Linked DNA regions of Homo sapiens. The protein of the gene in region 1 interacts with the protein of each later gene in a biochemical or structural test. Each region holds a gene or a part of one and is shown in the gene's direction. Other genes may lie near its edges.

Region 1 (7,169 bases):
TACTTCATTCTATGAATGTACTACCTTTCGTTTATCCAGTACCTGTTGACGGCACCTGGTTGCTTCCCATTTTTGGCAATTTTGAGTAAAGCTGCAATAAACATTTGCATGTAGATTTCTGTATGGACATAGTTTTCAAATAAGCTGGGTAAATACATAAGAGCATGATTGCTGGACTGTGTTATGACATTATGTTTAGCTTTCCATTCAATTTAAAAGATATTTTGGCCGGGCACGGTGGCTCACGCCTGTAATCCCAGCACTTTGGGAGGCTGAGGCGGGTGGATCACAAGGTCAGGAGATCGAGACCATCCTGTGAATGGTGAAACCCCGTCTCTACTAAAAATTCAAAAAATTAGCCGGGTGTGGTGGCGGGCACCTGTAGTCCCAGCTACTCGGGAGGCTGAGGCGGGAGAATGGCGTGAACCCAGGAGGCGGAGCTTGCAGTGAGCCGAGCTGAGACTGTGCCACTACACCCCAGCCTGGGCGACAGAGCGAGACTCTGTTTCAAAAAAAAAAAAAAGATATTTTATTTACTTTTTGAATAGGTAATGCATGTATATGGTATCAAATACAAAAGTAAGTTTTTCTCCTGTTTTATAGTGTTTCCCTCAATTTCCCTTCTCCAGATGCAGCGTCTGTTCCATTTCTTCCTTTAGGTGCTAAAGAAAATTATTCAAAACTTTGAATATAGCAAGAAGATGACTGCATGTGCTTCCAGTTATACTGAGGAATTATATAACAGGCTCACCCGAGATTCATTAATTCTCTAGGGCAGTGATTCTCAGAGTGTAGTATGTGGCCCTGGGGGGCCTCCAAGGTAAAAATAACAATACTATGATGTTATTTGCTTTTTTACCATGTTGACATTTGCAATGATGGTGCAAAAGCAATGGCAGGTAAAACTGCAAGTGTCTCAGCAGGAATCAAGGCAGGCCATTGTCCTAGCTTCCTGCTGTCACAAAGTACCATAGACTGGGTGGCTTAAACAACACATGTTTATTCTCTCACAGTCTTGGAGGCCAGAAATCCAAGACCAAGGTGTTGGTATCTGGTGAGAATTCTCTTCCTAGCTTGAAGCAATCTCACTGTGTCCTCACATGGCCTTTCTTCTGCATGTGTGCAGAGTGAGATCTCTAGTGTCTCCTTCTCCTCTTATGAGGATACCAGTTCCATTGGGTTAAGGTCCCACCCTTATAACCTCATTTAACCTTTAAGTATCTTTTAAAGGCCCTTCTAACCACCAATGTGACTCCAAATATAGTCCCATTGAGGACTGGGGCTTCAACATATGAATCTGGTGGGGGGCAGGCACATTCAGTCCATAACGGCACCAAACTCGACTAGTATGCACTGCCTTACACTTACAGGTTAAAAATGTTCAGTTTCACTTAAGAATGCTCCTGATAGCATTTAATTATTAATTTTATTAAAAGTTGTTTTATTAAAAGTTCTCCACTTGAGAACAAGTCTTTTTAATAGTGCATGATTAAAAGAGAAGTACACATAAGACATGTCTGCCTCATACTGAAGCAAAATGGTTGCACTGATGCAAAGCACTTGTGTGATTGAGTTGCCAATTGAACAAGTCACAGAGCATCATTTTTACTTGAATGACAGAATGAAGTGAGCCTGTCTCTTCAAGGAAAATAATTGATTGTATCTACTTCCAATAATAAAGTTCAAGTTTTTAAGCTAAAATTAGAATTCAAAAAACCCATATCCCGCTTCCATGAGCTTGAGTGCTTGTCAATAAAGACAGACTTCTCTGATGAGTTTAGTGGTAATTCTAACAAATGTTATTTTTTGATATTATATAATGAAATGATATTAGAAACCAAGATCTGGGGGCAAGATATGCTCGTTGCATAAAACGAGTGAACATTTGGAAGAGCTGCATAACACAGTGGACCAACATTTTCAAATGACTAATTAATACATGATGGTATAAAATCATGCATTTATTAACGATCCATTCAAAGTGAAAGACCAATCGATATTAATGTAACAGAGTATGAAAAGTCTATAGATACAGTTTTAGATTCCATATGGCAAGTAACCTTTAAGAAACTACCAGTTACAGGGCTGGGTGCAGTGGCTCACACCTATAATTCCAGCACTTTGGGAGGCTGAGAGGGGAGGATCGCTTGAGCCCATGAGTTTCAGACCAGCCTGAACAATGTAGGCCCAACCTCGTCTCTATAAAAATAATTTAAAAATTAGCCAGGCACAGTGGCATGTGCTTGTAGTTCCAGCTACTCAGAAGGCTGAGGCAGGAGGATTGCTTGAGTTCAAGAGTTCAAGGCTACAGTTAGTTATGATCACATCGTTACATTCCAGCCTGGGTGACAGAGGGAGACCCTGCCTCTTAAAAATAAAAAAAATAGAAACTATCGCTTGTAGAAGAATTTTGATGTCATTTTAAAGACAAATAGCCACATTTATTTGAAAAGACAAAATATTCCTCTCATTTGCAACTGTCTGTGTGAGGTTGCATGTTTTCATATACTTCAATGAAAACAACATAATGCAAATTATGTTGCAGTGAATGCAGATGTGAGAATCTTGTGGTCTTCTTTTTTTTTGTGGAGACGGAGTCTAGCTCTGTCGCCCAGGCTGGAATGCAGTGGTGTGATCTCGGCTCACTGCAACCTCTGCCTCCCGGGTTCAAGCGATTCTCCTGCCTCAGCCTCCAGAGGAGCTGGGATTACAGGCACCTGCCATCACGCCTAGCTAATTTTCGTATTTTTAGTAGAGACAGGGTTTCACTGTGTTGGCCAGGCTGGTCTCGAACTCCTGATCCTCCCGCCTCGGCCTCCCAAAGTGCTGGGATTACAAGCATGAGCTACTGTGCCGGCCAAATCTTGCTGTCTTCTAGTAGGCTCATTAAAGAGATTTGCAAAAATGTAAAACTATGTTACTCCTCTCACTGAACTTTTATTGCTTTGAAGAACATTATTTTTTGCATAAAAGTATGTTAACATGTAATGTGTTTTATGGTCATTTAAAAATGATTAAATAAATATTTAAACATTTTATGTTTTAATTTCTAATGTGGTAAATATTGATAAGCATAACCCATATCAACAAATGTTCTTTGGAATGTTCAACAAATTTTAAGAGGATTAATGGTCCCTAAATCAAGAGTTTCAGAACCACTGTTCTAGGGCAATTTACCTGAGTTGGATTTTATTTACAATTCATTAAAGCTTATACACTATGAAGACATGTTAACTTGCATGTTTTAATCTAGAAGAGGTGCAAATCATTTCTATACACTAGAAATGATAATCTATGGTTTTATCATCTTGTAGAACACCAGCCAGCTTTGTATCCAACCTAATCTTACTCTAATGCTTTGTCAAAATGTTTAATCTCCACTTCCTCAAAATGCTTTTGAACCAGCTTTACCATATCATTGTTAATTTGCTGAAGAAATCTTGGATATGTGTTCATGATATATTTGTATGAGTGTCATGCTTTTTACTTTTTTAAGATTATACTTTGACAGACACTAACAACATATGTATATATGACGTATATATGTATATACATACTATACACACACATACACGTACATATTTCACAACGATGGCATACGGATTCTCTATTCTGAATCTAGCTCTTTCCACTTAATATACGTTGAATGCACTCTTTATTTTCTTCGTCATCTTGACTTTCTTCTGATGCAACGCCCTGAGTTTAACTCACAGATCTGTTAATAAGAAACCCATACATCCCACATATACGCATTTTCCCGTCTCTGGCTCACTAACAAAAAGCTTACCCTAGCCCCATCTTTAACCATAGGTTCCAAATACCCAGGCTGGAATTCAACACAGAAATAAGAAAGGATCCACAGACAACGTGACAAAAATCCGAGCAGTCACGTGACACTGCACGCCCCATAATTTTTTTCCGCCCGCTTCAAACATGGCGGTCAAGCCCTCGCAGCGCAGCAGAAGCCACGGGCTTCCTTCCGCGTAGGAACCTCCTTGCTGCCCTTGTCGGGCTCTTTTGTCTAAGACCACCTCAAGGCAAAGCCCGTGGGGCAGCTGGGTCTGGGGAAAACAGCCCGGGGCCGCGGGGGCCGAACGAGCACGGACCGGAAGTTCCGCAGCCGCGCCGTCCGGCGGAGCCGTTGGCTGCGGACGCCGGAAGTGGCCAGTCGGCAGGTCTGAGGCGGCGCTGTGTGTGTGAAGCGTACCTAGGGCGGGAGGCGACATGGAGACAGGGGCGGCCGAGCTGTATGACCAGGCCCTTTTGGGCATCCTGCAGCACGTGGGCAACGTCCAGGATTTCCTGCGCGTTCTCTTTGGCTTCCTCTACCGCAAGACAGACTTCTATCGCTTGCTGCGCCACCCATCGGACCGCATGGGCTTCCCGCCCGGGGCCGCGCAGGCCTTGGTGCTGCAGGTGAGGCGGGCGGGCCTGCGGTCTGGGGAGCCGCCGCCCCCGGCCTGCCCTGACTCCTGGCGCCCGCTCCTCCAAGCTCTCCCAGCCTGTTTCCTCCTTTTCCTGGTGTCCTGGGGTTGAGCTTGTGAGAATGGCTTCAGTAATTTGAAGCGCGGATTGGATGTCAGCTTATTCCGCTGAGGTGTTCGCTCCGGACGTCCTGAGGTTTCAGAAGTAGTAAGCCGACTGTTAAGAGCCCTACTCAGCACCCGCCAGCGCGTACCCCTCACGGTGCTGGGGGCCGCTAGTCAGGGAGCGAAATCCATGCAGGCCAGACAGAAGGAAGGACATTTACAGCAACAGAAACGTGCATGCCCCAGAACTACCAAAGACTTGAGCTGGCGGGGATGACGGAGGCATTGTGTTGATCAATGGGTGTGGTCGCTTGTTTGAAATGTGACTTCCCAGGTCAAAGACTGTCAATGTAGTGCTTATTAAAATTTCTATTTGAGCTTAATTCCGTACCCTCCAGGTTAAGTTTATTGTATGTTGGAAACGCTGTCAATACTCATTCAGTGAAGTTGACTGGGCACTTTTGAATGTAGTGGTAAGCAACCTTTTGCTGAATGTAGTTTACACTCTTAGTTGCCGCAGGTGAGGGTGATACGGGTGTTTAAGTAATGGTTTCTCTCTCCTTGTGACACAGTTAAAGAGAGAAAACCCAGAAAGTAATAGAAAACTTTTTAAGGGCAATTATTTGATGGAGCCCATTGTAAAGAAAGGAAATAGAAATGATGGTTGAGAAGTGAAGTTTTTATAAGAGAGGTGGGACTTCTGATGAGATTAAAAGAAACTATTCAGCCAAGTATTAAGCCTATTTGTAGAAACCCAAGAAGATAGAAATGCTGATGATACCTCCCTCAGTTCTCTAGATGTTACAGTTTATAAAATGCTTCAGATGTTTCCTCCTGAAGTCTTAATGCATGCTGCAGGTTGGTAAGATGTTACTTTCCTCAGCAGAAGCCAAAGCTTTGAATGTCTTGGTAGCTACCAGGGTAATAGGGCCAAACGAGGAATGGGGTTCCATTAGGATTCAATTTCAGAACTTAAGGCTATTCCTCGTCCTTGTCAGTGGCATAAGTGCCATCTTAGTGATGAGAGAGCTGTTGGAGGTGGCCTTTAGCAGGATCTTATGGCAGGTTAATGAAGTCTTGCCATTTGATCTTCAGTGTCTCTGTGAAACAGATAAGTTTCAAGTTTACGTACCAATTCAGCAAGGTTAAGTGATTTGACCAAGAACACACAGCCAGTTCACCGTAGAGCTGAAACTAAAAATTTCATTTTGTGGATTCCAAATCTTCCTGTTCTGTTGTTTAACCATTCCATAGTAGGATGAGAACACTTTTGTCTAGATTGATTGTAGTTTGCAGAAAGATGTGGAGGAGAAAGGAGTATATACTGAGTAATATGTATAGTATCAGATGTTTTATATTCTGGGGTCGTTATCTTATTTAACCCTTAATATAACCTGAGAGGTTGGTCTTTGTTTCACAGATGAACTGACAGAGCACTCATTAACCTGGTAACTCATTTACCTGGTAACACCTCTTACAAGACACTTCCATAGGTTAGGATTTGGTGACCAGTCTAATGAAGTAGTGGAGATGGGGAGCAGGGATGGAGGAAGGGGAGGGATGGGTCAAAGATGATCCAAGGTTTCAACTTGGGTGACTGGAATAGTGATAATGCGTTAACTGAACTGTCACCTGGGTTTAGGGGAAAAAGTTCAGTTTTAGACAGGTTGAACTTGAAGTTGCAGGTAGGAGTCCCTGCCCATAGGCTATTGGAATTACTGGACTAGATCTTTTGGGAGCTAGAGCAACTGGAGTGGTCCGAGGGAGAGAGAAGAGCCAAAGGTGAAGAACAGGCCTTGGGGAATAATCTTGGTGGAGAGCAATAAGTTTCACAGAAACCAAGGGGACAACAGTCTCCAGCAGATGCTTAAGAGAGGTGTCATGTTTTCTGGAAGTGGTTCTCAACCATCAGCATCGCTTAAGGAACTTTTTTCTTTCTTTTTTTTTTTTTTTTTTTCCTGGAGATGGAGTCTCACTCTGTCGCCCAGGCTGGAGTGCAGTGGCATGATCTCAGCTCACTGCAACCTCCGCCTCCTGGGTTCAAGCAATTCTCCTGCCTCAGCCTCTCGAGTAGCTGGGACTGCAGGTGTGCGCCACCACGCCCGGCTGATTTTTGTATTTTTAGTAGAGATGGGGTTTCATCATGTTGGCGAGACTGGTCTCAAACTCCTGACCTTGTGTTCTGCCTGCCTCGGCCTCCTAAAGTGCTAGGATTACAGGTGTGAGCCACTGCGCCTGGCCAAGGAACTTTTAAAAGCACATATTCCTGGATATTTTGGTTGGGTAGATCAGGGTGAATCCTGGGAACCTGTTCTTTTTTTTATTTTTTTATTTTTTATTTTTGAGATGGAGTCTCATTCTGTTGTCCAGGCTGGAGTGCAGTGGCGCAATCTTGGCTCACTGCACCTCCTCCTCCCAGGTTCAAGTGATTCTCCTGCCTCAGCCTCCCGAGTAGCTGGGTTTACAGGCATGTACCACCATGCCTAGAGAATTTTTGTATTTTTAGTAGTAGAAATGGGGTTTCACCGTGTTGGCCAGGCTGGTCTTGAACTCCTGACCTCAGGTGATCACCCGCCTCAGCCTCCCAAAGTGCTGGGATTACAGACATGAGCTACTGCACCTGGCTGGAACCTGTTCTTT
Region 2 (5,751 bases), on another chromosome or scaffold:
TTACCACTCTGATGGGTAATTTTTCTCCCCTATTAGTTTGTTTCTCAAACAAAATCTTCCTCAACCTTTCCCACTGGCAGGTGTATACTATCAGATACTAGAAACTCAGAAAATTGTATTTGATTTGAGTAAACATCCTCACTATCATCTGGACTTGAATCTGGAATTTAAGAGAGTGAATACAGTCAAGTATAATAAATGCACTAAAGTATAATGGACCAAAGCCTGCGTAAGGTGGGCTAATACCTGCCTCACAGGATTGGTTCAAGGATTAGGCACAAATACGGAGCATTTATGCCATGCCTGGAACATCGTGTTCAGTAAATGGATATGGCGAGACTGTGTATTGTTAGATTTGAGCCCTGCTGTGCCTTAGTCCCAGCTACTCAGGAGGCTGAGGCTGGAGGATTGCTTGAGCCCAGGAGTTCTGGGTTACAGTGTGCTGTGCTGATGGGATGTTTGCACTAAGTGCAGCATCAATATGGTGACCTCCTGGGAACAGGAGACTCCCAGGTTGCCTAAGGAGGGGTGACCTGGCCCAGGTCAGAAACAGAGCAGGTCAAAACTCCCTTGCTGATCAGTAGTGGGATCGCACCTTTGAACAGCCACTGCACTCCAGCCTGGGCAACATAGTGAGACCCTGCCTTTGAAAAAAGAAGAAAAAGGATTTGAGCCCCATTTGGGATGGGCCAAAGAGGAACAGGCGTTTTTATTGAGATGTTAATACAGGATTTGATCATTGAGTCTCAACTTCCCTAACTGAATTGGCAAACTAGATACCTTCTTGGGTTATGGTATATTAGAGAAACACGAAAACTACTGGCATTTGGACTTTCTTAGAATTTTGTGGCTCATTAAAAATTGTATCTGGCTCAGTGTGATGGAGGGTTGGGACCGGGCAGGGTCTTGCTCTGTCACCCAGGCTGGAGTGCAGTGGTGCAGTCATGGCTCGCTGCAGCCTCGACTTCCCAGCTCAAACAGTTCTGCATCAGTCTCCCGAGTAGCTGGGACTACAGGCACACACTACCATGCCCGGCTAATTTTTTTTTTAATTTTGTATTTTGTAGAGAGGGGGTCTCACTATGTTTGTTGTCCAGGCTTACGTGTGAGTTTTAAATAAACCATTTCTTTTTCTTTCAGATTTCCACAAGACGGCACCCTATGTCGTCACTGGCAGCGTAGATCAAACAGTAAAAGTGTGGGAGTGCCGTTGATTGTGTCTCCTTCGGCCCCTCCTCCCTCTTTTCCTCTGGATGCACTCTGATGATACCATGGTTACCCCATTGAGCTCTGTTTAAATAAATATTGTCCTTTCATGTAAATTATTCTGGATGTAGATTGAGCTTATTAAATGTTACACACAAAGTATTCATGCATGGTGAATCCAAATTGTATACTGTAAATTTACATACGTTGTCTAGAAGTACCATAGGGTTTAAAAACCTGGGCTGGCATTGGTCACACCAGGCCTAAGAAGGCAGAAGTTGAATCAATTGAACTAGGGCACTAAACTGAATAGTTGACAGTGTCATTTTATGTTGGATTATTAATTCCTGTTTTTCTTTCTGCTATCTGTTGGTGCCTGACTTGATGGCCTCATTTGGGGAAAAGTGGTGGTTATTAGGGCTTTTTCTGAAATGTGTATCTATGTAACATCACTTAAGTGTGCTTAATAAATCTTCTGTAAGGATTTTAGATGATAAGGCTACAATTCAGAATCTTCTGAACCATCTATGTAATGAATGGGGATTATACATTGGAATTTTTGTCATGACACATTTGCCAAATCAGTAGGATATATTTGTTTTGGCAGCCTATCACGCAGAGGCTAGTGGTATATTTATGTAAGAAAATGACTGTAAATCTCAAGAAAAATCTCAGCAGCTAATAGCAACTCATTTATTTCATTTTGGTCTTAATGCTTTGTAAACAGGTCAAAAAATACTGTCATACTCTAAGCTTCTATTTTCCACACTGGACATACTTCTAGTTGTATTCTCCATACTATTAGACTGTGTAGTGATGTGACTTCCAAGTAGAATTTAATCTCCCCATTGAGTGTGTCATGGTACAAATCACTATTCGTTTTTGGTGTTTTTTAGGGATGTGCAATGTGCATTACATAATGACAGAAATACTGAGAAGGTTCTGTGTGCCCATTTGAAAGGAGTGGGAGGAATACAGCAGTTTGTTTTTCAACATGAATCTGATATTGATTTAAACTGTGTTTCACTTACAAGTTTTAAAAAAATGACAGGGTTTAATGGAGCGTGCATAAAAATGTACTGTTTTCACCTTTTGTTTATATGTAAATGTTTGTAAGTATATGGGCCTATCTGTAAGTGGATAAGTCTGTATGTGTGTATCATACACATCAACCTCCATGTCCTTAGTCCTGGGTTTTTGAAAAAGTGCTAAAACGGACAAGTAGAATAAATGTTGCTGTGGAATGCCATGCTTTAGAACAAACCCTTTTTGATCTTAATGCTTCTGAAAACTAGGTCTGACTCTGGGGATTTTTTTCCAGCCGAAGGAAAATCACTTCCGTTATGTCCCCCTCTAATTTAGCCGCTCGACATTTTACACAACCCGGATATGTTGTATATTTTGACCCAAAGTTACAGGTAGGTTTAAGAGAATTTTTAGCCATGACTTTTGGAGCACTATTCCATTGTCAGTTATTAATAAAGAATTCCATTGCTTAGCTAACCAACAGGTTTTTTTTGTTTCCAAGAGAGTTATTTGAAAAGTTAACAGAACAATGAGATAACAGTGACAGTTTAACAAAGATAAAATTCTGAACTGCGTTTTATTCATTTGTGTACTATGTGATTTTTTAAATGTCCCCTTTAGTATTTAATGGAAAATTGGTTCCTGCAAAAGACAAAGGGTGAGAGTTAGCGTCCTGTAGATACACACAGAGACTAGGCCGTATATTAACTAGAAGCAGCTTTATGTCTAGCTTGTGTCTTTTTGTTTGTTTGCTTGTTTGTTTTTAGATTCCTGAGAGATGTCTCTGGAAGGGAAAGTTTTGAGAACTAATGGCTATTTTTGAGGACAAAAATTACATCTTAAGCTAATTCCTTAAATACATACAGTAGGTGAATTTTCAGGACAATATTGCCTCACAACCCTGCTTACATTGAAAAGTCTTTTTCCCTTAGCTCTTCTGACTGGATTTTTCTACAAAAACTATGGAAAATATCTTTGTTCTTGTTTGCTGCTATTTTCTGTCCTATTTTGAGAAATATAAATACATAGAAATGGTGCATCTTAACATTTGTTTGTACATGTATAAATGTCTTGTATTTTAATTCATTTTTAGCATGAATTGTTTAAGGGTAAGCCACAACATCTAGAAATCACTCATAGATATTGAACAATAAAGGAGAATGGTACCGATGCAGGAGGAAGCAAGCGTGTCTTCCCCTGCAGCACACAGCGACTTGCGTTGACAAAGGAGGAGGAAACGATTACTCTGTAAACAAAGTTATCCTTACTTGGGAGATTGCCACAGCCTGCTGCTGAGTTGAGTTACCAGACATCCTCCATGTGAGAAGCAGCGAACATTGAATCTCAGGGATGGCCCACAACTGGGTCCACATGTAATGAGCCCTGTTTAATAACGAAGGGGTGGGGGAGAGCAGTCCGTCTACAACCTGGAATCAGATTTGCAAAATTTCCTGCACTGCTGTCTGACACTGTCCTGTTGATGCCCTTTCTGACTGTGTTCTCTGTTTTCTCTGTCTGCTGTCTAACCCTGTGCCTTGCCTGGGATAAGGACAATGATGAGGTTACTGGTTTGGATTGTAAGTAGAGGACTTTTATTAATTGGTTTAGAGGTTCACTGCTGCTTTGTCACTTTCTCAATCAAATTGGCCACTTAAGAAATAAAGAGCTGGTAGAATTGCATCCTCAGATGATTATTGACTGTGTGTGTGTGTGAAAACAGACATTCCAGTGCCACCCAAATATATATCTGTAACGTGCCCAAGAAATCCTAGCTGCGCTCTTGAGAGTGCATGCCATGGAGACTGGTTTAGACACCGCGTGGAGCCTAGTTGCCTGTTGTCACGGCATCTTGCACTTTAGGAGACTAAGACCGTCCTGGTTCGTCTGTGTGTGGTGTGACCAATGGTGTGCCCAGAGCACTACTCTCAAAATCACTAGTGTTAGCAAGTCGTCCCGGGCTGGGGAGCGTTCGCCGTAGTCTTTGGAAGCTTTGGCTTTAGATTTACCAAGCCCCGCCTCCCCGCTGCCAGTGCCCTGCTCTCCCGTTCGCCTCTTTCTGTTTCTGTGTGAACTTTCCCGGTAATATCACTCGTTAAATAGGTTTTCTTTAAACTTAATTAAAGAAAAACTATTTAAAGGTAAAGGATATTTTGTTGACATCGGTGGCTCGATCATCCTTAAGCAACTGAAGTTAAAATTGTTGAAGGAAAAGGCACTTAAATTGGTTACTTTCATGTCCAGCTGTATATAAGTCCAGTGTGTTCATCTAGATGACGCAAAGAATCTCCTGGTAGAGAAGCGACATGTAAAAAACTGGTGGAAAAAGGTTTTGGATTTTTTTTCCAGTGGGGTGGGGGGAGGGCAAGCTGGATTTACAGGTCACGGCTGGACTGAATGGGCCTTTTTATCTTCCCACTGTATCATGGAAGTAGCTGCTTGCTTGTACTGTCCATCCTTCAGGCATCCCTAAAGCTCACTCTGAAGATGTTAGAGACAAACACAAACTCTTCGAGTTAAAGTTGATCCTGACACTGACATGAAGGCAAGCCTTGATTTCGTATGAACGTTGCTGAAGTGGTAATTGAGGAAAACAGTTCCCCAGATTGTTAAGAGTTCACTGAAGATATTGACACAATTTTAAAAAATCAGTAAAGGAATGTATATAATATTGCTCTCGTGTTTTACAGTAAGATTTGTTGCTCTCAGACTGTGTAAAACAAAATTTATTCATGTTTTCTGCATATTAAAAAATCTTATTGTACCAACTGGTAAACTATTAAATGCCTATAAAACTAGATGTGATTTTTTTTTTTTTTTTTTTTTTTTTTTTTGTCTTCCTTTGCACAGGGGAAATGCTGATAGAAAGTGGGGCTGTGTGTAGCTCCAGTCACAAAGAGTGACACGAATCGGTGTCAGGGCAGTAAGGCCTCATGAGCTGCTTTCCTTCAGGGCAGCACCCGAACTGGCTTTGCTGTCCCCCTTCCCCCGGGTGGAGGAGGGAGTGCCTCAGCCTGAGCCTTGCCATGGCATGCGTCTGCGGCACAGGCCCGCTCTCCCCAACCCTCCCAGCAGCCCGTTCTGACTGTGGCTATCGCTGTGGCCAGAGAGCCAAAGCCAGGATGGCTGGTTACAGGCCCAAGACTAGACTCTTGGGGACAGAGTCTAGAGATAAGGGGCCCTGCCGGGCGCGGTGGCTCACGCCTGTAATCCCAGCTCTTGGGGAGGCAGAGACGGGAGGATAGCTTGAGCCCAGGAGTTCGGGACCTCCCTGGGCAATATAGCGAGACCCCGTTCTCCACAAAAAGGAAAAAAAAAAGATGGGGCCCTACCCCCTTTGTTCTGTTAGCCTCTAATCTTGCTCAGTGGTCTTGGAATCATAAAAGTAAATCCTTAATACTGTTTTCGATTTTGGTTGAAACATACAAAATAAGAGTGTTCATCTTTGTCCCAGAAACCCCAGCTCTGCACTTTACACATGGCTGTATCTGTGGTGTATTCAAGGTGCCCTACAAAGGACAG

Evidence for each region.
Region 2: the proteins of NUDCD3 (region 1) and PAFAH1B1 form a complex in vitro, tested with the Homo sapiens proteins (one study listed by BioGRID).

Annotation. Positions count from the first base shown.
Region 1 is NC_000007.14:44,487,656-44,494,824, reverse strand, and holds the start of NUDCD3 (nudC domain-containing protein 3), read left to right. Parts: upstream 1-4,166; 5' UTR 4,167-4,224; coding exon 4,225-4,416; intron 4,417-7,169.
Region 2 is NC_000017.11:2,680,589-2,686,339, forward strand, and holds the end of PAFAH1B1 (platelet-activating factor acetylhydrolase IB subunit beta), read left to right. Parts: intron 1-367; exon of another isoform or gene 368-646; intron 647-1,140; coding exon 1,141-1,214; 3' UTR 1,215-5,027; downstream 5,028-5,751. UniProt on the Homo sapiens protein: Regulatory subunit (beta subunit) of the cytosolic type I platelet-activating factor (PAF) acetylhydrolase (PAF-AH (I)), an enzyme that catalyzes the hydrolyze of the acetyl group at the sn-2 position of PAF and its analogs and participates in PAF inactivation.